Regions from separate parts of the Homo sapiens genome. Here all the other regions are linked to region 1. Evidence: fine-mapped expression QTL. A gene starts in region 1. Each other region holds a variant in brackets. All regions are shown on one strand. Distances are from middle to middle.

Region 1 (8,182 bases):
AACCTCTTGGTGGGCACATCTGGCAGGTAGACCCCACCACTACTGCAATTTCAGACTACCTAATTTTAACTCGTTTTTAAATACTAATCTTGCCATAATTGATCATCTGACTTTTATTCCTGTTCTGAGATATTTTTAGAAAAAGTATTGAATGAGAAAGCAGCAGCAAGATTAAAAACATGAATAAAAAGCATATCTTTTCATGTAAATCAAGCTTGTCCAACTCATGGCTCGTGGGCCGCATGCAACCCAGGAGCACTTTGAATGAAGCCTTACACAAATTCATAAACTTTCTTAAAACATTATGAGTTTTTTTTTGCATTTTTTTTTTTTAGCTCATCACCTATCTTAGTGTTAGTGTATTTTATGTGTGGCTTGAGATAATTCTTCTTCTGATGTGGCCCAGGGAAGCCAAAAGATTGGACACCCCTGATGTAAACGAAAGTGAACTGTAAAACAGTAACACTAGCCTCTAAGAAAGCCAGACTTCCTTAAAAAGGCAAGTCATTTATCCAGTGTAGGAGTTTGGGGAATTATTTTCTAAGGAAAGAAATGGTGCTTTCCAGTCCCCCGTGAATGAAATTTATTTTTACAAATTTACCATCTCACTAGTTTCATTACAACATTGGTCCATAATAATGGCATAATTTACCTAGAAAATATGTTTAGTTCCTAGGAGATAGAAATCCTAGTTGAATTCTAGGATGTCTTTAAGTTATATATAACTTTCATTTTTTATTCTAATAGCTCAAAATGCATTGCATCTACTCTAATAATAAACAGATATTATGAATGCTGATTTTAGCATTTTAAGACCTACAGCTGGAAAAGACCATCTGACCGTCAATTTAAGAAAGCCACAAATGACATGACATACTAATTATCTGTATTAATGACCCAGTTATTAACACCACTCCTGTAAACATTTCCTTCTAGTGAAAAAGGAAATAGTATATATCCGCATATTGCAATAATCATTCAAGGTAGTTTGAAAAAATACTGGAATTGGTAAAGTTAAAGGCATTTTATAGAAATAAAAAGTTTTACTGGTTGCTTATCAGAATTAATTATGATTATTCATAAATGTTACTTCAATATGTTTAAAAATACACAAACCAACCCAAATCTCACACATGTCAGCCCTACTAATGTCAATTCAATTCTAATATAGTTATAAGAAAATATGGTTATGTCAAAGGAAACATAGCAGGTTCACAAAGTACTGGGCAGGCAGGTAACCCAAATAAGTGAAACAGGCTTCAAGGGCAAGGAGGACTGTGCCTAACAGCTGCTACTCAGCCCGACCCAACCTTTGCCTCTAGGAAATACTGGTAAAGAACAACAATAATAAACTTCTGCTAATGGAACAGTCTGCAGGCTGGATTTGGCACACAGGCTACCATGTATATGTACCATGTACCTTTGCCGAAATGCTTAGTGGCTACGAACTAGTCTGAGTCAGAAAAGCTAGACTGAAAAAATACCTCTCTTCTGATTCTAACAAACTTCATGAACCTATCCAGTCTCCGTTTCCTCATCTATATGTCACTGATTTTTATTTTCTTTTTTTTTTTTTTTAAGAGAAAGAGTCTCAATGTTGCCCAGGCCAACTCCTGGGTTCAAGCAATCCTCCTACCTTATCCTCTTGAGTAGCTAGGACTACAGGCGCGCCCCACCGCACCCAGCTTGAGTTTTTTAAGTGAAGTTAGGTAATGCACGTAATTTTTTAAAATGCTATCATTAGATGCTGAGGGGTACAGATTAAAAAGGAAACAGAAAAAGAACAACAACAATTTAAGCATCTGTTCCATCTGGCTATGGGCTTTACTTTTCCTCAAACTGACAACACCTTGTCCCACCTTCTTTCCCACCCACAGGCTATTTTCACCTGTAATGTCTCCTCTTCCTCAGGTTTCTTCAAGGTGTACTTAATATTTCATTTATACCTTTCCTTTCTACTTCAGGCCTCCTTTGAAAGTACTTTCAGGAATGGCACTGAAACTAGGGCCTATTTTACTGCTGAACTCTAGGACAAACTCATGAAATCTTGTTCCCTTTGAATGTAGTAGTTTTTCCCCCCTAAATCTTTGAACGCTGTGCACTTCGTGAATTCCTTTTGCCTACCTAAAGGACCTATCAGCATGTTCACTGAACAGTGCTTTCATCTATCCCTCTTCCCGGGACCCTCGCTTAACATCTGTTCAAGGTGCCAATCAAATTAACGAAAATGTCAAAACGTATTAACCAAAAATTCATTGCTAAGCAAATAGATTTGAAACAACTTCAGAATATCAATTCCAAGGCTCCCCTTCTTTAAAAGGAAATGTGAGTTAAGAACAATCTTAGTTTTTTCTTACATTCATTCTAGTACAGACATCCAAAAAACAAAACAGCTTTCCTCAGAAAGGTGTGTTTGACTTTCTCAAAAGGAAGTTATCATATTGATTTCAGTTCATGTAGAAAAATAACATTCTCCATTTCTTTTTTTTTCTTTTTTGGAGACAGGATCTCACTCTGCTGTCCAGGCTGGAGTGCAGTGGCCCAAACACGGCTCACTGCAGCCTCAACCACTTGGGGTCAAGCGATCCTCCTGCCTCAGCCTCATTTGTAGGGACAAAGTCCCGCCACGTTGCCCAGGCTGGTCTAGAACTCCTGGGCCCAAGCGATCCTTCCACCTCAGCCTCCCAAAGTGCTGAGATTACAGGCGTGAGCCACCGCGCCCAGCCCTCCATTTATTTTCTTGATAACAATCTGGAATCTTGATTCCATGAAACCTCTGAGAATCAAAAGAAATGTTATGGTGCCTCTCTCCAGGTAAATGCACAGAACCTCAAATTTTTGTAAGCAATTCTAGGGGATTCAGAATACTCCAGGATCTTCCGTGGAATATCTATCCACCCCAGGTTAAGAATTCCACTAATGAATATGAGGTTTCTTTCTATTATTAAGTGTCATGTATCTTTTAAAAAAGATAGTCTTTCTTAATGAGACCTTCAGCTTTGAGATTTAACTAGGGAAGCAGCTTCCCTTTGCAACTAAAACTACTATCTCACAGCCATCCTGACAGCTGACAGAAAATTGAGAATTTCTTACCTCTGAGAAATTAACAGCCAAGGGAATGATTCCGGCCACGTAACATCCCACCAACATAGCCAGAGACAGCAGGCTAATGGAGATGAAATCATCCATTCTGCCCTCCTTTATTCACCCACAACCACTAGACAACAAATTTCCAGTGGCTTTAAATGGTGCTTAGGTTCTTTAAACAGGTGTGGTGGTTCCAAGAGAGTGGGCTTTCCAGTTCTTTAGGCCTTCCCACCAGCAGATGTGTTCACGAGGCACCTTCCTCTTGAACGTACCCGGCAACAGACCCTTTTTGCTGATATTAGCACCAGAGAAAGCTTACAGCAATCTAAGGTCCCAGGCTCTGGGTTCTCAGATGCCAGTCATTAGATTCTCGTGGGTTAACAGAGATGGGAAAAGTCAATGGGGAAAATGTGCGAATGATCGATTTCTTCGATTGTCGGATTGAGGGTGGCACAATGTCTTAGGCGGCGGCGGGTAAGTGACTCAAGCGAACCTGTTCGTTCCCTAGGCGCCCCTGTCTCCAAGAGGCGGCCCCGAAGGTGATCCGCCCCCCAGAGCAGGAAACCAGCCCACCAGTCCCAGCAAACTCTCCTCCGAGCCTGGGATGAGGAAAGGAGTCCTGCAGGTCTCTAACGATGGGTCCTAGGGGTTCAGCAGCAAAGTTGACACAAAGCTGTCTCTGCCCTATACCCGGTGCTGCCCATGGTACTGCACTCGACCGGGCCTTGACCCGGAGTCGCCGATACTACAGCTGCCATGGCCGCCAAGTGGCATCTCTTCATTCCATCCACTTCCGGATTGTCTAACCACCCCCTCCTTTACAAAGGCACTTCCGGGTTACAACCGACCTCCGGCCCAGGATACTTACGTTGCCGCCATTTTTGAGTAGGGCTAATGAAAGATGTCTGATGTCACTGTCTATACCGGTGATCACTTGAGCCGTATGTTTAATAACGAAAGTACGGAAGACAGCGTCTTGAAAAAAAATAATTCTTCCTAAAGCTTGGAAACTTTCCCTTACCTTTTTGCCTTTATCGAAGATGGCTGAAACAGAGTCAGTAGCTGCTCTAGCTGCCGGAAGTGACTGTGCCTCTATGATCCAAAAGGCTCTTTTGCGTTGCACTTTCGACGACTTCCGGCGGCTCCTCTCGCGAGGATTGGCTGTTAGCGGCGTTGTAGTTAAGCTCGTGTAACGGCGGCGGTGTCGGCAGCTGCTGTAGCGAAGAGAGTTTGGCGCGATGGTGAGAAAGGCCTCCGCGGCTACCCGAGTCCGAGTCCCCGGCCTCCAGAGCGACCCCAGCCCCATACGTTTTCCCCTCCCCACGAGCCCCATGCAGCGCCGCGTGATGCTCCCCGCCACTCTAGTCGGTGGATTGACCCTTCTTCCCGCCGCAGGGACGCCAGGCCTGACTCTAGGCCTCGGAGCCCCGGTCCGCCCTGCGGTTGCGCGCCCGCCTGCTCGCTCGGGTCCGGCGTGCCTTGGGCCTGAGGATGAACTCTCTCCCGATTGTTACTCGGTAGAGGGAGACGTGGGGGAGGTGTTTTGTTTTTTGAGATAGAGAGTCTCACTCTATCGCCCAGGCTGGAGTGCAGTGGCGGGATCTCAGACCCCTGCAACCTCTGCCTCCTGGGTTGAAGCAATTCTCCTGTCTCAGCCTCCCTAGTAGCTGGGATTACAGGCGCCCGCCACCTCGCTCGGCTAATTTTTTTATTTTAGCAGAGACGGCGTTTCACCATGTTGGCCAGGCTGGTCTCGAACTCCTGACCTCAAGCAATCCACCCGCCTCGGCATCCCAAAGTGCTGGGATTACAGGCGTGAGCCACCGGGCCCTGCCGGATATGGTATTTTTCCCTCCAAATGCTCTAGCCTGCTGTAGGAACAATGGGCCAGGGTTGTCTAACTATTCTCGAAGCTGACAGATCCAGCTATACCCAGCATGTGGGCCAGGAGAGGACGTATTTGCTTTGCAGTGTTTTTTCAGCTTTCGTTTTCCTGTGCTCTGCCTTTTTTTTTTTTTTCCTGTTTTTGAGACCTCTAGGTATTGCGTGTGGCGCGTCCCTCAGCCCTCGATCCTGTACTTATCTGTATTTATATCCTCTTGGGGCTGGAGGCTGAAAAGTAGGCTCAGCTCAGAGACCAGCTCTATTAGAACCCAACCGGGATGATCAGTAAGCTCCAATTCGAAGAAAGTGACCAAAACTGGCTTGAGAGGTGGTATAATCTGTAAAGAATTTGAGCAGGAAAGCATTGCCATTTAAAAATGATAACCACTTGACCACAGTTTTTAAAATGTATCATGTTATGTTCTTAGTGATTTTTAATCCTTGTCTTTGGGCAGTAAGTACTGAAAATAGTAAACTTTGCCCGGTGTTCATTTTAAGACTAGATATAAAAAGCAACATGCTGTATAGCTTTTTCCATTCTTACCCTTTCAAATTAGTCCTTTAATTTGCATTAGAATTGGAATACAATTATTATAGTAGCAGTTGAGATAGCTAGTGTATAGGGCAACCTCTGTTGCAAGAATGCACGTGGTTTCTACAAAATTATTTTTTCTTAAATGACTCGTTGAAACTTTTTGAGTAGCTAGCTTACAAAGACTTCTGTATAACAAATAATCTAATATGATGCTTTCTGTGGCTTTTAAATCGATTTAACAAAGGCTTTGACTGCTCAGGTTATTACAGGTGAGAGTTAATCCTTCGTCTCTTGTCACCAAGTTCCGTTTTTATGTCAAACCCTCTGAAACTTTTAGTCAAAGTGGTTTAGTTCTTGATGGGGAGAGAAGGGTATGATAACCCTTGGTTTTGCATGTCATGTTAAATGTACTATTTTTCCATTGTTTATTCAGAAAGTCTGGGCTTCAGCTATTTCTGTTCCAATTTGATGGTTAAAAATTCTGATCATTTTGTCCAGGCGCGGTGGCTCACGCCTGTAATCCCAGCACTTTGGGAGGCCGAGGCAGGCAGATCACCTGAGGTCGGGAGTTCAAGACCAGTCTGACCAACATGGAGAAACCCCATCTCTACTAAAAAGACAAAATTAGCCGAGCATGGTGGTGCATGCCTGTAATCCCAGCTACTTGGGAGGCTGAAGCAGAAGATTCGCTTGAACCCGGAAAGCAGAGGTTGCGGTGAGCTGAGATCGCGCCTTTGCGCTCCAGCCTGGGCAACAGGAACAAAACTGTCTCCAAAAAAAAATTATGTTATTCCAAAACAGTTTAGGGTTCCTGTTAGGAAATTTTTGTTTTCTGGTTTTTGGCTGAAAAATACTAGTACAGCAGAAGAGAAGGAAAAAGGTGAATAGTTTGATTTGGGACTGGATTTACAGTGGAGTTGCATCATACTTGCATTTAATTAACCTTACACATGTAGCAGAAAATTGGATGGGTCATATTTTCAACAGACCAGTGAATTCTCAGCTGGATGAGATTTTTTGCTCCCCAAGGGACATTTGTAACAAAGAATCAGTCAACCCAAAAGGTAATAGAGCCCACGTTGAGAAAACACTGAGATTGATTTGTTAGTGACTGATCACTAACAAAAACATGTTTCCCAGTGAGCACGAAGTGGAAGACAAGTCTGTCTGCTATGGGCATTATTTCACATTTCTCATAGTGTGATGACCTAACTTTCTGTGTGATTCTAATATGTGATTTTGGTATGAGAAAGCCCAGTAAGGCAAGTCATCTACTAGGTGAATAGTTTAATGGATTTTTAAGGGTAATTCTTATGATATGTTTATATTGCTAATTTATCTACTGCTTTAATGTTAAGTCTAACCCCTGGATAAAATGTGACTTTGCTCTTACGCTGAGGTTGGAAAAAAAGCTTAAGTTGAAACCATGCTTGTGATTATTATACTATTTCCCCTTTTGTTTCCTTTCATCAGCCCATCTGAGTTTTTATTAGTGACTTAAGAGCATTAAAGATGGAAAGTGACCACTGGAGACAGAAAACCTAAGCAGGTTTATAATTTAGTTGGGAAGAAAAGATAGAAAAGGAAAAGGAGGGCAAGGTAGCTTATACTGATTACTTGTAGGCAGTAAGTACGGTAGGACTGGGAGACTTAGGGAGACCGTACAGCAGAGTTGTGAATCCAGCTAGATACTATACTTAGACTAAGACATCAATATTTTTGTGGGAAAAGTATCCTAATGACTTTTTTTTTTCTTTTAAGAGATAGGGCCTCACTCTCCGATGCAATGGTGTGATCATGGCACACTGCAGTCTCAGCCTCCTGGGCTCAAGGAATCCTCCTGCCTTAGACTTCCAAAGTGCTGGGACTACAGGCATGCACCCGGCAAATTTTATTTTTTTGTAGAGACAGGGTCTTGCTATGTTGCCCAGGTTGGTCTCAAGCTTCTGGCCTCAAGTGATTTTCCCCCTCTCAGCCTCCCAGAGGATGAGGATTATAGGCATGGGATGCCATGCCTGGCCTCTCTAATTACATTTTAATAACTAGCAATCATTATTGCATTACAAATGGGGATTTTTTTTTATCATACTATGAATTTCTCAAATAGAAACTTATATTGAAATCATGTTTTCCCCTGCAGTCTCACACCATTTTGCTGGTACAGCCTACCAAGAGGCCAGAAGGCAGAACTTATGCTGACTACGAATCTGTGAATGAATGCATGGAAGGTGAGTTTAACACTAATCAAGGGGTAGAAAAATGTCTCATTTAGGAACTGGGTTTTTCCCCTCCAAATTTTTTTTTTTTAATAGTCCATCCACCCCAGGCCCTGCCTTTATCACTTCCAACCCTCCAAATTTATTGAATTGCTAATTTTAGGAGGGAAAGCAGATATTTAGGATGGACCATAATTATTGAACATTTTATTTATTTGTTTGTTTATTTATGTATTATTTGAGACAGAGTCTCGCTCTATCACCCAGACTGGAGTGCAGTAATGCGATCTCGGCTTACGCAACCTCCGCCCCCCAGGTTCAAGTGATTCTCTTGTGCCTCAGCCTCCCAAGTAGCTGGGACTACAGGCATGGGCCACCACACCCAGATAATTTTTTGTGTATTTAGTAGAGATGGGGTTTCACCATGTTGGCCAGGCTGGTCTCGAGCTCCTGACCTCAA
Region 2 (8,182 bases), 77 kb before region 1:
AGGTCCACACCACCATGCCTGGCTCATATTCACCTTTCTCACTAGGACTGTGCAATACCATTTTCTGGTGACTCTTCCCACCAACAGCTGACTCCCTAAATAATCCAGCTCCCCACCATCATGCGTGCTCTTTTCAAGGCCCCAAGCTGATCCTGTAAGTCTCTTGTGTAAAGCCCTCTGCTGGGTCCCATTCCCTTGACCCCAGCTCCTACCTCCTGACTTTGGCTCTAACACTGATACGGTTTGGCTGTGTCCCCACCCAAATATTATATTGAATTCCCATGTGTTGTGGGAGAGTACTAGTGGGAGGTAGTTGAATCATGGAGGAAGGTCTTTCCAGTGCTGTTCTCATGATAGTGAATAAGTCTCACCAGATCTGATGGTTTTAAAAAGGGGAGTTTCCCTGCACGAGCTCTCTTCTCTCATCTGTCACCACGTGAGACATGCCTTTCACCTTCTACCATGATTGTGAGGTCTCCCCAGCCACATGGAACTGTAAGTCCAATAAACCTCTTTCTTTTGTAAATTGCCCAGTCTCAGGTATGTCTTTATCAGCGACGTAAAACCAGGCTAATACAAACACCCTTCACAGTCTAGTCCCTGGCCCTGTCCGCACTCAAAAGTTTGTACCAGTAGAGTAGGGTGCTGCTGAAAAGTTACCCAAAAATGTGGAAGTGACTTTGGAACTGGGTAACAGACAGAGGTTGGAACGGTTTGGAGGGCTCAGAAGAAGACAGGAAAATGTGGGAAAGTTTGGAAGTTCCTAGAAATTTGTTGAATGGCTTTGGCAAAAATGCTGATAGTGATATGAACAATAAGGTCCAGGCTGAGGTGGTCTCAGATGGAGATGAGGAACTTGTTGGGAACTGGAGCAAAGGTGACTCTTGTTATATTTTAATAAAGAAACTGGTAGCATTTTGCCCCTGCCCTAGAGATTTGTGGAACTTTGAACTTGAGAGAGAAGATTTAGGGTATCTGGTGGAAGAAATCTCTAAGTAGCAAAGCATTCAAGAGGTGACTTGGGTGCTGTTAAAGACATTCAGTTCTGTAAAGGAAGCAGAACATGAAAGTTCAGAAAATTTGCAGCCTGATAATGTGATAGAAAAGAAAATCCAAGCCAGCTATGGAGATTTGCATAAGTAATGAGGAGCCAAATGTTAATCCCCAAGACAATGGGGAAAATGTCTCCAGGGCATGTCAGAGGTCTTCACAGCAGCCCCTCCCATCACAAGCCCAGAGGCCTAGGAGGAAAAAGTGGTTTCATGGGCCGGTCCCAGGGTCTCCTGTGTGCAGCCTAGGGACTTGGTGCCCTGCATCCCAGCCACTCCAGCCAGGGCTGAAAGGGGACAACGTAGAGCTTGGGCCATGGCTTCAGAGGGCACAAGCCTCAGGCCTTGGCAACTTCCACATGGTGTTGAGCCTGCAAGTGCAGAGAAGTCAAGAATTGAGGTTTGGGAGCCTCTGCCTACATTTCAGATGTATGGAAACACCTGGATGCCCAGGCAGAAGTTTGCTGCAGGGGCAGGGTTCTCATGGAGAATTTCTGCTAGGGCAGTGCAGAAGGGAAATGTGGGGCAGGAACCCCCACATAGAGTCCCTACTGGGACATTGCCTAGTGGAGCTGTGAGAAGAGGGTCAGACCCCAGAATGGTAGATCCACTGACAGCTTGCACCATGCACCAGGAAAAGCTTCAGATACTCAACACCAGCCAGTGAAGGCAGCCAGGAGGGGGGCTGTACCCTGCAGAGCCACAGGGGCGGAGCTGCCTAAGACTATGGGAACCTACCTCTTGCATCAGTGTGACCTGGATGCGAGACATGGAGTCAAAGGAGATCGTTTTGGAGCTCTAAGATTTGACTGCCCTGCTGGATTTCAGATTTGCCTGGGGCCTGTAGCCACTTTGTTTTGGCCAATTTCTCCCATTTGGAATGGCTGTATTTACCCAATGCTTGTACCCCCATAGTATCTAGGAAATAACTAACCTGCTTTTGATTTTACAGGCTCATAAGTGGAAGGGACTTGCCTTGTCTCAGATGAGATTTTGGACTGTGGACTTCTGAGTTAATGCGGAAATGAGTTAAGACCTGGGGGACTGTTGGGAAGGCATGTTTGGTTTTGAAATGTGAGTACATGAGATTTGGGAGGGGCCAGGGGCAGAATGATATGGTTTGGCTGTGTCTCCACCCAAATCTCATCTTGAATTCCCATGTGTTGCAGGAGCAAGCCAGTGGGAGGTAGTTGAATCATGGGGGTGGGTCTTTCCTGTGCTGTTCTCGTGATAGTGAATAAGTCTCATCAGATCTGATGATTTAAAAAGGGCCAGCCTGACCAATGTGGTGAAACCCCATCTCTACTAAAAATCCAAAAATTAGCCAGGCTGTGGTGGCACATGCCTGTAATCCTAGCTACTTAGGAGGCTGAGGCGGGAGAATTGCTTGAACCTGGGAGGCAGAGGTTGCAGTGAGCTGAGACTGTGCCACTGCACTCCAGCCTGGGTGACACCAGAGGGAGACATTGTCTCTAAATAAATAAATAAATAAATAAATAAATAAAATAAAGGGGAGTTTCCCCGCCCAAGCCCTCTTCTCTTGTCTGCTGCCATATGAGACATGCCTTTCACCTTCCGCCATGATTGTGAGGCTTCCCCAGCCGCATGGAACTGTAAGTCCAATAAACCTCTTTCTTTTGTAAATTGCCCAGTCTCAGGTATGGCTTTATCAGCAGCGTGAAAACAGACTAATACAAATACCCTTCACAGTCTAGTCCCTGGCCCCTGTCCGCGCTCACTCACAGTCATTCCCCTGGCCCTCTGCTCCAGCCACGCTGGTTCTGCTAGCCTGGGAAGGTCCCATGCTCTTCACATCTTCTCACTTGCTGTCTCCTCAGTCTACAATGCTTCTCTTATTCCCAAAATCCCTCTTCAACATTCAGCCCAAAGACTTCTTTAGTGATGTCTTTTAGTTTTCTTTTAAAACATTATTATTATTATTTTAAGAGATAGGGTTGCTCAGGCTAGAGTGCAGTGATGCCATCATAGTTCACTGAGCCTGGAACTCCTGAGCTCAAGCAATCCTCTCTCCTCGGCCTCCCAAGTAGCTGGGATTACAGGTACATGCCAAAACGTCTAACTAATAAACTTTTTTTTTTTTTTGAAATAGGGCCTAGGGATCTTGCTATGTTGGCCATGCTAGCGTTGAACTACTGGGCTCGAAAGATCCTCCTGTTGCTGGGATTACAGGCATGATCCATTGCACCCAGCAGTGATGCCATTTTTTTTTTTTTTTTTTTTTGAGACAGAGTCTCACTCTGTCACCCAGGCTGGAATGCAGTGCCTCGATCTCGGCTCACTGCAACTTCCACCTCCTGGGTTCAGGGGATTCTCATGCCTCAGCCTCTGGAATAGTTGGGATTACAGGCACACACCACCACATGCAGCTAATTTTTGTATTTTTAGTAGAGACAGGATTTTGCCATGTTGGCCAGGCTGGTCTCGAACTCCTGACCTCAAGTGATCCACCTGCCTCGGCTCCCCAAAACGCTGGGATTATAGGCGTGAGCCATTCCACCCGGCAGTGATGCCTTTTCTGATGCCACTTCCTCCTCCCCTTGGTTGAATTATATTCCTATTTTGATTGTATTTCCTAAGGCCACGATGGGCCTTGGGCTCCTCTACCTGCGCAGGACTGGGTTTCCCCCAGGGCAACCCAGGAGAGAGTTGAGGTGGGGCACAAGGTACCACATGAAGGTGCAAAGCCAGTAGGCCAAAGGACTATGGGGGAGGGAGAGCCACAAGGGTGTGTGGGCACAGAAGACTAGTTGACCCATCTCTGGGTGCGCTGGGGAGTAGGGTCCCCCGGGGCCCCTGTGGGAAGCCTCACTTGCGGGGAAGCACAGCCTGAAGCCACATAAGCAGGCCCC[C/T]GCTTCAAAGTCTCTCTCCACTTGAGCTCCCTGGCACTAGACTAGATGGGCTGTGTTCTCATCAGCAGGGCCAGCCTCTTGCTAGGCTTCTACCCCACCCCACCCTCTCACTGCCCAGTAATCACTCACACCCAATGTTGCCAATGCAGAAGCGTTTTTGGGAGTGGCTGGAAAACCATGCCACCCTGTCAGCCTGCCAGCTACTCTACCGCACTAACATTAGCTCTTGGTACCCACCGGCATCGCTGTGGGCAGCACACTCAGCAGACACCCTGAAGGTATTCAGTGCTCCCTCTTGTGGGTGATGCATGAATTAGAATATACATTAATTTGGCTTCTAAGAGCAAGTATATTTTGGGAATGGTAAGAGGCAGATATGTTGAGTCTGGCCAATAAGCCCATAGCCATTTATTGCTATGATCTCACACACTCTCCCAGAACATCTAAGGGAAAGCCAAGATGCTGGCCCCTCATCTAGAACAGAATTAGCAGTTCACTGGACTAGGAGCCAAAGGCTGGTCACCAGCGTTAGCTCCATCTTTACTCAATGAGAAGACTTTGGTCAAGTTACTTTAAAACACTCTTGTCTTCATATATCAAAAGGGAGCTAACCAGGAACAGTGGCTCATACCTATAATCCCAGAGCGTTGGGAGGCTGAGGTGGGAGGATCAACTGAGCCCAGGAACTCGAGGTCACATTGAGCTGTGATTACACCACCACACTCCAGCCTGGATGACAGAACGAGATCTCCAATCTCTTTTTAAAAAAAGAAGGGGGTGACCAGGACATCTAACTCTCTGCATCATACTTTCTTGGAATTTTTTTTCCAGGTTCAATAGCATGTTCTTTTCTGGCTTTGTTACTAAACTGAATTTGCATCCGCACACCCGGTGGAGCAAAGCCAAACACGGCCATGGGGATTGCAGTCAGAGAAAGTGAGGCATTTATTGCAGGGTGCCAAGGAAGGAGAATCTGGCAGTTTATACTTCAGACCAGAACTCCCAAACAGCTTACAGGCAAGACTTTCTAAAGGCAGAGGTTACAAGCAAAGTCATAAGCCATAAATTAATACAATGGAGGCTATACGTTGGTTTGACCTAAAAAGGTGGACATCTCAAGGCGGGTGGGGCACAGGTCACAGGTGAATTCACAAAGATTTTCTGATTTGCATTTGGTAAAGGAGGCAAAACTTTGTCTAAAAATTCGGAGTTAGCAGAAAAGAATGTTAGCTCTGGCCCATGGTCGCGAACCGGTGGTCAGAGTTCAGCCCTCATTTCCCCCTATCTGAGGTCTATGTGCCAGCAGATCATTTGGTGGGGGTCTGGGTTTCTGGAAAGCAACTCAGGAAAATATGGTAAGATATTATCTTTAGTTTCTAAAGGGAACCAAACTTTCTGAGACTCTAACTTCCTTGGTTATTGTTTTAGGCTGCTTTTGCCTTCTTGCTTATGAAATTGCTCGCCCACTTCTCAGGGCTAGCTAGGTGCCTGGAATTTCCCTTGAAGGAACTCAGATTTTCCTTTATTTCCTTGATGAGTGGGTGGGGAGGGTGCCTGGCAGGCTCCTAAGAGGAGTCCCCGCTCCTCTCAGTTTGTCAAGTACTGAGCAGGGCGAAGGCAGGGACAGATGAAAATACAATATAGGTTCTACTGCCATTCCCACCCTCTGCCCCTAGCCCAGCAAACACCCAATTCAGATGGGGGCTGGAGGGCTGGAAGGAAACAAGAGTTCAGGAGTGGAAGCTTTGGTGAGACAGTAGTTGAAGTATCTGAAGATGGTTATCAAATTCTGCCCTCAAGAGCATTCCAGACATAAGCAAGCAATCCAGGTCCTTCTAGCTTCCTCGAAGACCCCAATCTCCCCCTCGATCCCCTTCTCCACTGGGCTCCCTCCTCTGATGGCTCCTGAATTTGTCGGGATTCCTCAATTCTTGTGCAACCAGAGTGGGACACAAACTTTTACTCACATTCCTGTCCAAAAATTACAAAATTGGGCAGTGGCTAACATGGTAACAAAAATCAGTGGCTGAGCCAGTAATAGGATCCGGGTTTTCTGATTCCTAAATTAGTCATACAGCACCTTGCTGTGGCTGGTCAGCACTGAGTTAGTAACCTGAACCCAGTTAATTTCCCACCTGTACACTCAGTTCCATGCCCTTTCTGATACTGCTAACTCCCAAGCAGCCCTCACCAAGTGAGGCAGAGGTGGAGCTACACACACGCAGGGTCAGCAGCTGGTCCTGCCAGGGATCAGGGCTGCAGCTGGGGCGGGGAGAGGGAGGGTTGGTGGGAGGGTGGGGTAGGGACACATTCTGAGAAACATGTCCTTAGGCAATTTTGTCCTTGTTTGGACACTGTAGAGCAGTGGTCCCCAACTTTTTTGGCACCAGGAACCAGTTTCATGCAAGACAATTTTTTCATGCGCTGGAGTTTGGGGGGAGATGGTTTCAGGATGATTTAAGTGCAATACATTTATGGTGCACTTTATTTCTATTATTACATTGTAATATATAATGAAATAATTATACAACTCACCATAATGTAGAATCAGTGGGAGCCCTGAACTTGTTTTCCTGCAACTAAACGGTCCCATCTGGGGATGATGGGAGACGGTGATGGATCATCAGGCATTAGATTCTCATAAGGAGCATGCAACCTAGATCCCTGTGTGTGCAGTTCACAGTAGGGTTCATGCTCCTATGAGAATCGAATGCTGCCGCTGATCTGACTGGAGGCAGAACTCAGGTGGTAATGCTTCTTCACCTGCCGCTCACCTCCTGCTGTGTGGCCCGGTTCCTAATAGGCCAAGGACCAGTACTGGTCTGTGGCCCGGGGTTGGGGACCCCTGCCATAGAGTGCACTTACACAAACCTAGATGGCATAGCCTACCACACACCTAGGCTGTATGGTACAGCCTATTGCTCCTAGGCTACAAACCTGTGCAGCACATTACTGTACTGAACACTGTAGCCAGTTGCAATGCAATGGTAAGTATTTGTGTGTCTAACCACAGAAAAAGGTGGAGTAAAAATACAGTATTATAATCTTAGAGGACCATGGTTATAAATGTGGTCCATCATTGACCGAAACATTGCTCTGTGTTGCATGGCTGCTTTATAAAGCACATGACACGGTGATTAACGTTACCGAAAAAGAAATAGAGCAGCATACAGAACATGGGGGTGGGGACAGGTTACAGTTTTAACTCACGCGGTCCCGGTAAGCCTAATGGAAGGAGACATTGCATCCAGAGTTGAAGGAGGGGGAAGAGCATTCCAGACACAAGGACAAAGACTCAAGGTTGCTTACTTCTTACATTATAAACAGTATACGGGAGGATGCAGCTCTAGCTTAGAAGAATTAAAAACAGACATACATACATGTGTAGGCAGGTGAGTGTTTGATTCCCTGGGTTGCTGCTTGAAGGGCTGTGGTGTTGGGTGTGCCGCCTGTGTGTGATTCTCTCTCTGGTTGTGGGTGAGTGACCGAGTGGGCATGTGACCATCGCTGTGTGTGGTGATTGTTGTGACGGTGTGTGGTGTTTGGTTCTGACTCAGCACGGGTCGTTGAGTGTGTGGCTGGGACCATTGAGAAGTAGATACACACTTGTGTGTGACTGTGTAAAAACGTGTGAAACATTTTCTCACCATTTCCGTGAAGCAGCCGTTTCACCAGAAGGTTTGGAAGGAACCTTAAGCTCTGGAAGCCTAAGAGTTTATCTGGTAATTAATTTTAAACATTATATCTATGGTAAAAATAAATGTGGATTATGAAGGAGAAGACAAAGTCAGCAAAAGTGAGATGTCAAGGAGCTTCCTGTGTATAGGTTGACATCTCTCGGCCAAATACTAGACTACCATGGGTGGTGGTTCATTCTCTTCTGCTGTTAGGCACCTTTGGCATGGGAAAGTGTGGGGAGCCCTGGACTTGAGACATCCTGAGGCAGCATGATTCTGAATGACTGGGACTCCGAGGTCCTGGATGCTGGCCAGCCCCTGCGATGCCCAGTCCTGAATGAGAAAACCATCCCTATTCAAGGTAGTACAGTTTGTCCTTGAACCAGGTCTAGACTCCAGAGCTACTCTCTCTTGGTTTGATCCAGTTTCTCTCAGACCTTGTGACCTCTACAGTGTAGTTAAGAGTGTGGACTCAGGAGCCAGAATGCCTGAGCTCCAGCTTCAGAGATGTGCCTTGGTTTCCACATTTGAAAGTGGGGATGAGCCAGGCGTGGTGGCTCATGTCTGTAATCCCAGCTCTTTGGGA
Region 3 (8,182 bases), 27 kb after region 1:
AGCCAGATGTGGTGGCATGTGCCTGTAGTCCTAACTACTCAGGAGACTGAGGCAAGAGGATCACTCAGGCCCAGAAGTTCACGGCTTCAGTGAGCTATGATTGCACTCCAGCATGGGTAACAGAGTGAGAACTTGTCTCACAATAAAATAAAGATCTCTATTTGTAAACCCTAGAGAAATCACTTTAAAAAAAAAGAATCCAAAAGAAGATAGGATATCAGGATAATGTGGAAACCTGCGGTTGGAGGAGTTGCCATGGTAATGTTAACTCCCACCTTCATCTACAGGCTTTTGTTGTGGAGGCTTTTGTTTTACTGTGTGCCAGGACCCCAGAACAAAGAATAGGTGGGAAAATAGATAACAAACAGCAATATGGTAAATTTAGACCCAGTCATTAATAATTTCATTAAATGTAAATGGTCTAAACATTTCAATGAAAAGACTCGGATTGTCAGACTGGATCATGAAGCAAGACACCACTATATGTGGTCTATAAGAAATCCACTTTACATGTTAAGACACAGATACAATAAAAGTGAAAAGGATGCGGAAAGTATGTCATGCAAACACTAAGCATTAGAAGCAGGAGTGGCCATACTTAATATAAGGCAAGGAGACTTCATAACAAGGAATATTACCAGGGATGAAGGGGGATGCTTTGTAATGATAAAAGTGTAGCTTCATCAAGAGACATAACAATCCTAAAAATACGTGCACCTGCTGTCGTTTGCATGTGTCTCCCAAAGTTTATGTGTTGGAAACTTAATCCCAAATTCAACAGTGTTGGAAGTAAGGCCTAATAAGAGTTGATTGGGTCATGAGGGTATGAGCCTTATGAATAAATTAATGTCATTTCCGCAGGAGTGAGTTAGTTATCATGAGTGGTCTTGTCATAAAAGTGAGTTCAGTCCCCCTGCTCTCTTTCTTGCTCTCTTTCTTGCTTTCTGCCTTCCACCATGGGATGACATGAAGGCCCTTGCAAGGTGCCAGTGCCATGCTCTTGGACTTCCAGGCTCCAGAACTGTGAGCCAAATAAGTTCCTATTGTTTATAAATTACCCAGTAAGTATTTTGTTACAGCAACAGAAAATAGACTAACACATCACTCAGTGACAGAACTTCAAAATACATGAATTAAAAACCTCGGGATATTCCAATGTGCAATATACCACTACTGTTCAAAATGTTGCACACCTGAGTATCTTGAGCAGATTTTTATTTGGTTGGTCTGTGGTGGACTCACAGTCTACAATTTTAACAAACTTCCAGGTAACCACACTTTGACTAGCAAGACATCCTACACATACTGCTTTTCATGAGGTAGCATAGGAAAATGCCTGGTATATAGTAGGTGAACAGTAAATAGTGATAGAATCTGACTAAACAGAACAAGGCACATAAATGGCAACAAAGATGAACAAGAATGATCTTAGGCAGTAGGGATAGAGAAGAGCATAAACTTTAGTACATGAAGCAGTATAACATTTTTATGGGAGGGAGTGCTGGGGGAGTGTTAAGTGGACAAGGAATCATAAGTAAGTAACAAGCATAACACTGAAAGACTACTCACACTCTAGGCTAGACATTAAGGCAAGTGAATGATGGGCTAGGAGATAGGAGGGGCTGAGAGGCTGAAATCATGAGGGCACTTGAAAGATGGAGAAGTTGAAAGAAGCTAGATGATGGTCTGAGGGGAATTTCAGTGATACCTTAGAGGAGGGCCAGGCACAGTGGCTCACGCCTGTAATCCCAGCACATTGGGAGGCTGAGGCGGGCAGATCACTTGAGCTCAGGAATTTGAGACCAGCCTGGGCAACGTGGCAAAACCTCATCTCTACAAAAAATGCAAAAATTAGCTGGGTGTGGTGGCATATACCTGTAGTCCCAGCTATGCAGGAGGCTGAGGTGGGAGGATTGCTTAAGCCCAGGAGGTCACAGCTGCAGTGAGCCAAGCCGAGATTGTGCCACTGCACTCCAGCCTGGGCAACAGATTGAGACCCTGTGTCAAAAAAGAAAAAGGAAAGAGAGAAAGAGAGAGAGAAAGAAAAGAACAAAGAGAAAGAAAAAGAAGAGAAAGAAAAAAGAAAAGAAAAAGAGAAAGAAGACTTAGAGGGAGATAATCTCTTAGTGATTTGCTTTCCTGTCTACTCCACTACATAGTTTGTCTTGTAAGCCTAAGAAAGATGTTTTGCCTTTGAAGATAATAGTAACTCCTTCAGCTACATTTAGAGATCCTGTGTCAACATATCTAGCATACCCTTTCTTTTTTGTAATTATACACTTAAGTGGATGTTCAGTTTGAGACATACTGTGAAAAGGTTGGTTTAAAAGCCTTTTCTGTGCCAGAGGTAATTTTCTTTATGCTTTTCAAGAGACTATGAAGAGGCTAATGAGAACTGATGACATCGCTTAACTGAGACAGGCCCTGCATTCTTGTCAATAGATGTTTGAAGTTAAAGTGTGTGGGCTGTAATTTAAGAGAAATGGGATAGATCATGGTTTCTTTCTTGGAAGCCCAGGGTTGGAGGAGTTGTCATGGTAATACTAACTCCCACCTTTACCTACAAGCATTTGTTGTGGAGTACCTACTCTGTTACAGGACCCTTGGGCTTGGCCAACTATATTGCCTCTCTAGCCTTGGAGAAAAAGAGTATAGTTGAGTCTTTTAGTGTCTGTTCCATGGTGAGTAGTTTGAAGAGTATCCCACAGTTCTGGGTCCTTGCCCTGCAATGCCCCTGGCCATTCTAGAGATCACTTTGTCCTTGACACTGTCAGTGAGCTCAGAGACCTGTTAGAAGTATGGTCACCAACTTCCACCTACAATGCAACTCCAGGAAGGATTACCACAATGCTCATCCCAATTATTTTGCAAATCCCAATGGGAGGTTGCAGGTATAATGACAGAGGGCAGGAAACCTCATGTTTCTTGCAGAGTGTTAGGAAAAGATTTGAAGGTGCAGGTACTGAAAGGCTGTTGAGGACAAATGCTTATTAGAATGAAGTTGATTAGAGATCAAAGTCCTGCTTGATACCTCAACGTATCCTTGATACCCTTGCTTCTCTTAAGCCAGGCCCTCTGAATCTTTTCAGGTACTTGGATTGAGAAATTACTTCTTTCCTTCTTAGAAAAGGCTGAAGATCCCAGGCATGGTGGCATGCGCCTGTAATCCCAGCTACTCGGGAGGCTGAGGCAGAAGAATCTCTTGAACCTGGGAGGTGGAGGTTGCAGTGAGCCGAGATCGCATCACTGCACTCCAGCCTGGGCAACAGAGCAAGACTCCATTTCAAAAAAAAAAAAAAAAAAAAAAGGCTAATGATCACTACTAAGACAATTATGTATTTGAGCCTTGTGACCTATGTGTGAATGGTGAGCATCTCTGAATACTACCCAGCATTCCTGCAACAGACCAGTGTAGATATTGGGATTCCACAGTTTGTATAAGATTCTATGTCAACAGACCCCGTATCAGTGAGTCAGTGTTTGCAGCCAACACGGAGTATGTTGCCCCAAGAGCCTGTGGATGGATCACTCAGGCTTCCCAACAAGGACAACCGCCTCACCTCCCCCTGCCCATCACCAGCTTTGATAGGCACTCCAACCCCCAGCCACCTTCTGCCTAGACAAGCTCCTCTTCCTACTTGGGCTCTAACTCCTCACTGCAGGCCACTCCTGCACAGGGATGCCCTACTCATCCTGCTCATCCATAAAGGTAACTCCACATTTATGTGACC[G/A]GCTGTCCTAGTAACAGTTATGCTGTTTCCACCTCATTTTCACTGTTTAACTTAATCCTCGGGTAAGTGTAGAGCCAGGTGAATGATAACTTATTATTATTTATTATTTATTTTTTTATTTTTTTTGAGACAGTCTTGCTCTGTCGCCCAGGCTGGAGTGCAGTGGCACGATCTCGGCTCACTGCAACCTCCACCTCCCGGCTTCAAGCAATTCTTCTGCCTCAGCCTCCCAAGTAGCTGGGATTACAAGCTCACGCCACCACGCCCGGTTAATTTTTGTATTTTTAGTAGAGATGGGGTTTCACCATATTGGCCAGGCTGGTCTCCAACTCCTGACCTCATGATCCACCCACCTCAGCCTCCCAAAGTTCTGGGATTACAGGCGTGAGCCACCACGCCTGGCCAATGATAACTATTATTACAAAACAAACTCTTAAGAGTTTTGCACACTTTCTATATGTACGTTATACTTAATCAAATGTATTCCCCAGCAATATTTAATATTGCTGTTAGGCCGGGTGTGGTGGCTAACGCCTGTAATCCCAGCACTTTGGGAGGCCAAGGCGGGTGGATCACGAGGTCAGGAGACCGAGACCATCCTGGCTGACATGGTGAAACCCTGTCTCTACTAAAAAAAAATACAAAAATAAGCTGGGCGTGGTGGTGCGTGCCTGTAATCCCAGCTACTCGGGAAGCTGAGGCAGGAGAATCGCTTGAACCAGGGAGTGGGAGGTTGCAGTGAGCTGAGATCGCACCACTGCACTTCCAGCCTGGCGACAGAGTGAGACTCCATCTCAAAAAAAAATAAAAAAATTACTATTAATACAATACTACCAGAAAGAAGTCTAAAAACATTCATGTTACCGTGAAGTTACCCCTGTATCTTAGTGGAGGCCAAGGACCCCAGGGCAGTCCAGTCACCAGCTGCTCAGGCAAGGAATCTTGTTCAACTTCCGGCACTTCTTGATTCTCTAATAGGCTATCCTTGTAGCACTTTGATTCTCTAATAGGCTGTCCTTGGCCCTTTGGTAAGGGCCAAAAGATCTGATAAAAACATAAGGACTGTTTATTTGGTTTTTAAAATTGTATCAAGCTATTTCAAGAAATATTTTTAAATTGCTAAAGCTGCTCACAAAGCAGTAATGACCCTAGCATAGGTGGGATCTTGCCTTTTGCATTGATTTGCACTTGGCGCACTGTTCCTGTTGGAGATGGAGGGCAAAGGAGAAGATAGCACCAGGAGGCTCCTTTGCCCATCAGTATAAGATTCCAGCAGTATTAAGGAATTATTGTGATTTTTAGATTTGATAATGCCATTGTGGTTATTTTTTCAAATTCTCTTTTAGAGTGTATACTGAAATATTTACAGATAAAATGACATATATGAGATGTGCTTCAAATAATCCAGTGGAAGGGTGTAGATGAAACAAGATTAGCCATAAATTGATAACCTGGGTGGTGGGTTTCACCTCTTCTTTTTCATATGCTTGAAACTTTCCATAATGAAAAGTTAAAAAAAAATAAAAGATTCGATCACAAAGTTATATCCTATCTTGGCTACTGCATAGCGGTAGTGCTAAAGCCAGTAGGAACACTTCTAAGACTGACAATGCATCCATGATCCTTACTCCTCCATAGGGCTTTACCATTCACAGACCACATTCACTGCTCCACTCCACCTGGATACGCTGCCCCACCCTCTCCCCTCAGCCTGAGCAGAAGAGGGAATGATGCATTATCAAAGCAGGGCATATTTGGGCCACAAAAGAAGCCTTTGTTGAGGACGACTTGTCTGGTTGCTTGGCAGGCGGAGCTTGCAAGGAAGCCCGAGGTAGCTCTGCTATGTCAGGCTGGTGTTCTGTAAGCCTGGGAGCAGTGGGGAATGTTTGGGGCCACTGAAGCTGCATTTCTGACACATGCTAATGAGCTCGCCCAGGGATGTAAACAGAGTCAGCACTTCAAACTAAATTCTGGTGACATTTAACAACCCTTGCTTAACCACCTCCCTAGACTGCTTCTGACTGGACACAAGAATGCCAATAGAAAAGGGGGCATTTCCCACCTCTGACAGCTTTCCAATGCCAGTTTATAAAAAGCTGCCAAATGTGCCCAGCCTCACTCAGTGTGGGCATCCCCAAAGGAGAAGAGCAAATGTGTTTTCTGAATTCCCAATTTCAGGCCTCTCCACTCATCTCTACAATCTTCCCCAGTCTGGTTGGGAAGTAAGCTGTCCTCAGGGGGACCTTAGAGAGCTCCTTCAGGGAGTCGGAAGACTCATTAAGCTGACAGTTGACAGCTGATTTTGTCATGCTAACTTTAGACTGTTCCTAATCAGGAGCCACTAGTCCCTGAGGTGGTTGTGTTCATTGCCTACTTGTAAAAGTAGGTCTTTCTCTAGTTTTGAGTGCACGTGGTTGCGTCACTCTGTAGGTAACGTGGACAGAGCTGGGGAGGCCAACAACATGGATGTTCCTATTGAAGAAAAGTTAACCACTCCGTTCCCTAAGATCAGCCGCTTGCCTTGAAGACACATGCCAGTGGTTCACAGTGGAGCTCACCACCCCTCCTCATGGACCCCATCCAAAGCAGCTCTGTCTTGAATGGTGTTGCTAGCCAGCCAACCTTTCACGGCTGAGGTCTGGGTACAAGCTTTCATTTCTTTCTTCCTCACTTTCCACATCCAGTTGGTCAGCAAGTCTTGCTTTTATCTTTGTCTCTCTGCCTCTATTCATTTATTTAATTATTCATTTCCACAAATATTTACTTAGCACTTACTATGTGCCAGACACAATGTTAACATCTGGGGATATAATGGAATAAGACCGTCTGCCATGATCCCTCCTTCCATTCCTATGTGTCCTCCTGTTTGGGCCCTAATCAGAACCCCAGTGCCTTCATCAGGCCCTCATCAGTTATCATCTGCAATAGTTTCCTAATTGATCTTCCTACCTCAGGGTGACTCTCGATCAGTTAGTCAGTCATCATTCTCTCGTTACAAATGACAGAAACCCATCCTGACTTAGCTCAGGCAACAAGAGTGAGGGGTATAGTTTATTGAGTTGTGTAAACAAATTACAGGAATGGCCAGAGCACAGGTGAGTCTTAGGATCAAGTGGAACCAGAAGCTGATGGGCAACAGGAATGCCTGCTATTTCTGGTCCCTGCTTCCCTTGAAGTGTTAGTGTCATTCCCATCACAGGCCAGCTCTTTCCCACAGGGATGCCCATTGTCTTCGAGTTTTACCACTTTAGAAAGATTCCTTCTTTCTAGTCGAGTTAAAAGATCCCAAGAAATGTTCTGACTGGACTGGCCCAGCTTGGGTTACCTGCCCTGAGGACATGGTGGGATCTGTGTGGTGGGCAGCCTCTGAGGTGGCCCCCAGTGATTCCTGCCTCCTGGTAGTCAAGCCCTCGTGTAAACCCTCCTCTTAGGGGAAGGCTGAACTTATGAATGACTCTCCTAAAATAGCATACAGCAGAAGTAATGAGATCTCACTACCAGTATGAAGTTACAGAAGGACTGTGGCTTCCATCTTAGGTGTGCTCTCTCAGTCTCTCTGAGACTGTTGGTTCCAAGGGTAGCCAGCTGCCATGTTGTGAGACAGCCCTATGGAGACAGCCCATGGAAGTGAGCTTGGAAGCAGATTCTCTAGCCCTGCTTGAGCCTTGAGATGACTGCAGCCCTGGCTTGACACACTGATTGCAACCTCATGAGAGTCTCTGAGCCAGAACCCTCAGCTAAGCCACTCCTGGATTCCTGACCCATGGAAACTGTGAGATAATAAATGTTAATTGTTTCCAGCCACTAAATTGTGGGGTAATTTTTTACACGGCAATAGGTAGCTAATAGAGTCTATAATAAAATGGAAGTTTCTATTCAACCCACAAGGGAAAGAGCTTTTCCCAGAAAAAGGAGGCAGGAGGTTTTGGCTGATAAAGAATAGACATCCATCACTACCCTCTAATAGTCTGTCCTCTTCTGTGCTATGGAAGAGGACGTTTTTCATAATGAAAATCTGATTATATCACTTTCTTGCCATTCTTTCTCTTTTCTTTTTCTTCTTTTTTTCTTTATTTAGAGATTGGATCCCGTTCTGTTGCCCAGGATGGAGTGCAGTGGCACAATCATGTCACTGTAGCCTTGAACTCCTGGGCTCAAGCGATCCTCGCACCTCAGCCTCCCAAGTAGCTAGGACTAAAGCTGTGCAGCACCATGCCTGGCTAATATTTAATTTTTTATTTGGTAGAAACAGGGTCTCCCTATGTTGCCCAAATTGGTCTGAAGCTCCTGGCCTCAAGCAGTTCCCCCCCACCCTGCCCCATCTCCACTTCCCAAAGCGCTAGGATTATAAGTGTGAGCTGCCATGCCTGGCCTTCCTGTATGGAATTCTTTTTCTTTTTTCTTTTTCTTTTTTTTTTTTTTTGCCTTGCACAGCCCCTGCTTGGAATTCT

Direction of the effects. Positions count from the first base shown, and alleles are read on the strand shown. Sizes are in standard deviations (SD) of each study's normalised expression. Not every link is listed here.
As copies of T replace C in region 2, the expression in monocytes after R848 of the gene that starts at base 3,867 in region 1 goes up (large effect, 0.80 SD a copy in Quach 2016).

The links.
Region 2: its variant is fine-mapped to the expression of SLC39A9 in monocytes after R848 (Quach 2016, PIP 0.95).
Region 3: its variant is fine-mapped to the expression of SLC39A9 in whole blood (INTERVAL, PIP above 0.99).

What each region holds. Positions count from the first base shown.
Region 1 is chr14:69,394,377-69,402,558 of GRCh38, reverse strand. SLC39A9 (solute carrier family 39 member 9) reads right to left here and starts at 3,867. Exons shown (of 7, transcript NM_018375.5): 1 at 3,094-3,867. The coding sequence starts at 3,189. ERH (ERH mRNA splicing and mitosis factor) reads left to right here and starts at 4,260. Exons shown (of 4, transcript NM_004450.3): 1 at 4,260-4,328; 2 at 7,647-7,734. The coding sequence starts at 4,326. RefSeq lists enhancers at 3,575-3,914, 2,843-4,042, 4,244-4,751, 4,752-5,260 and a silencer at 4,011-4,251.
Region 2 is chr14:69,471,367-69,479,548 of GRCh38, reverse strand. It overlaps a transcript of PLEKHD1 not described here. Among named protein-coding and RNA genes, the nearest start is that of PLEKHD1, 9.3 kb to the left of the region's middle. The variant C/T (reference allele first, on the strand shown) is at 3,920.
Region 3 is chr14:69,367,617-69,375,798 of GRCh38, reverse strand. It overlaps a transcript of GALNT16 not described here. Among named protein-coding and RNA genes, the nearest start is that of ERH, 27 kb to the left of the region's middle. The variant G/A (reference allele first, on the strand shown) is at 3,732.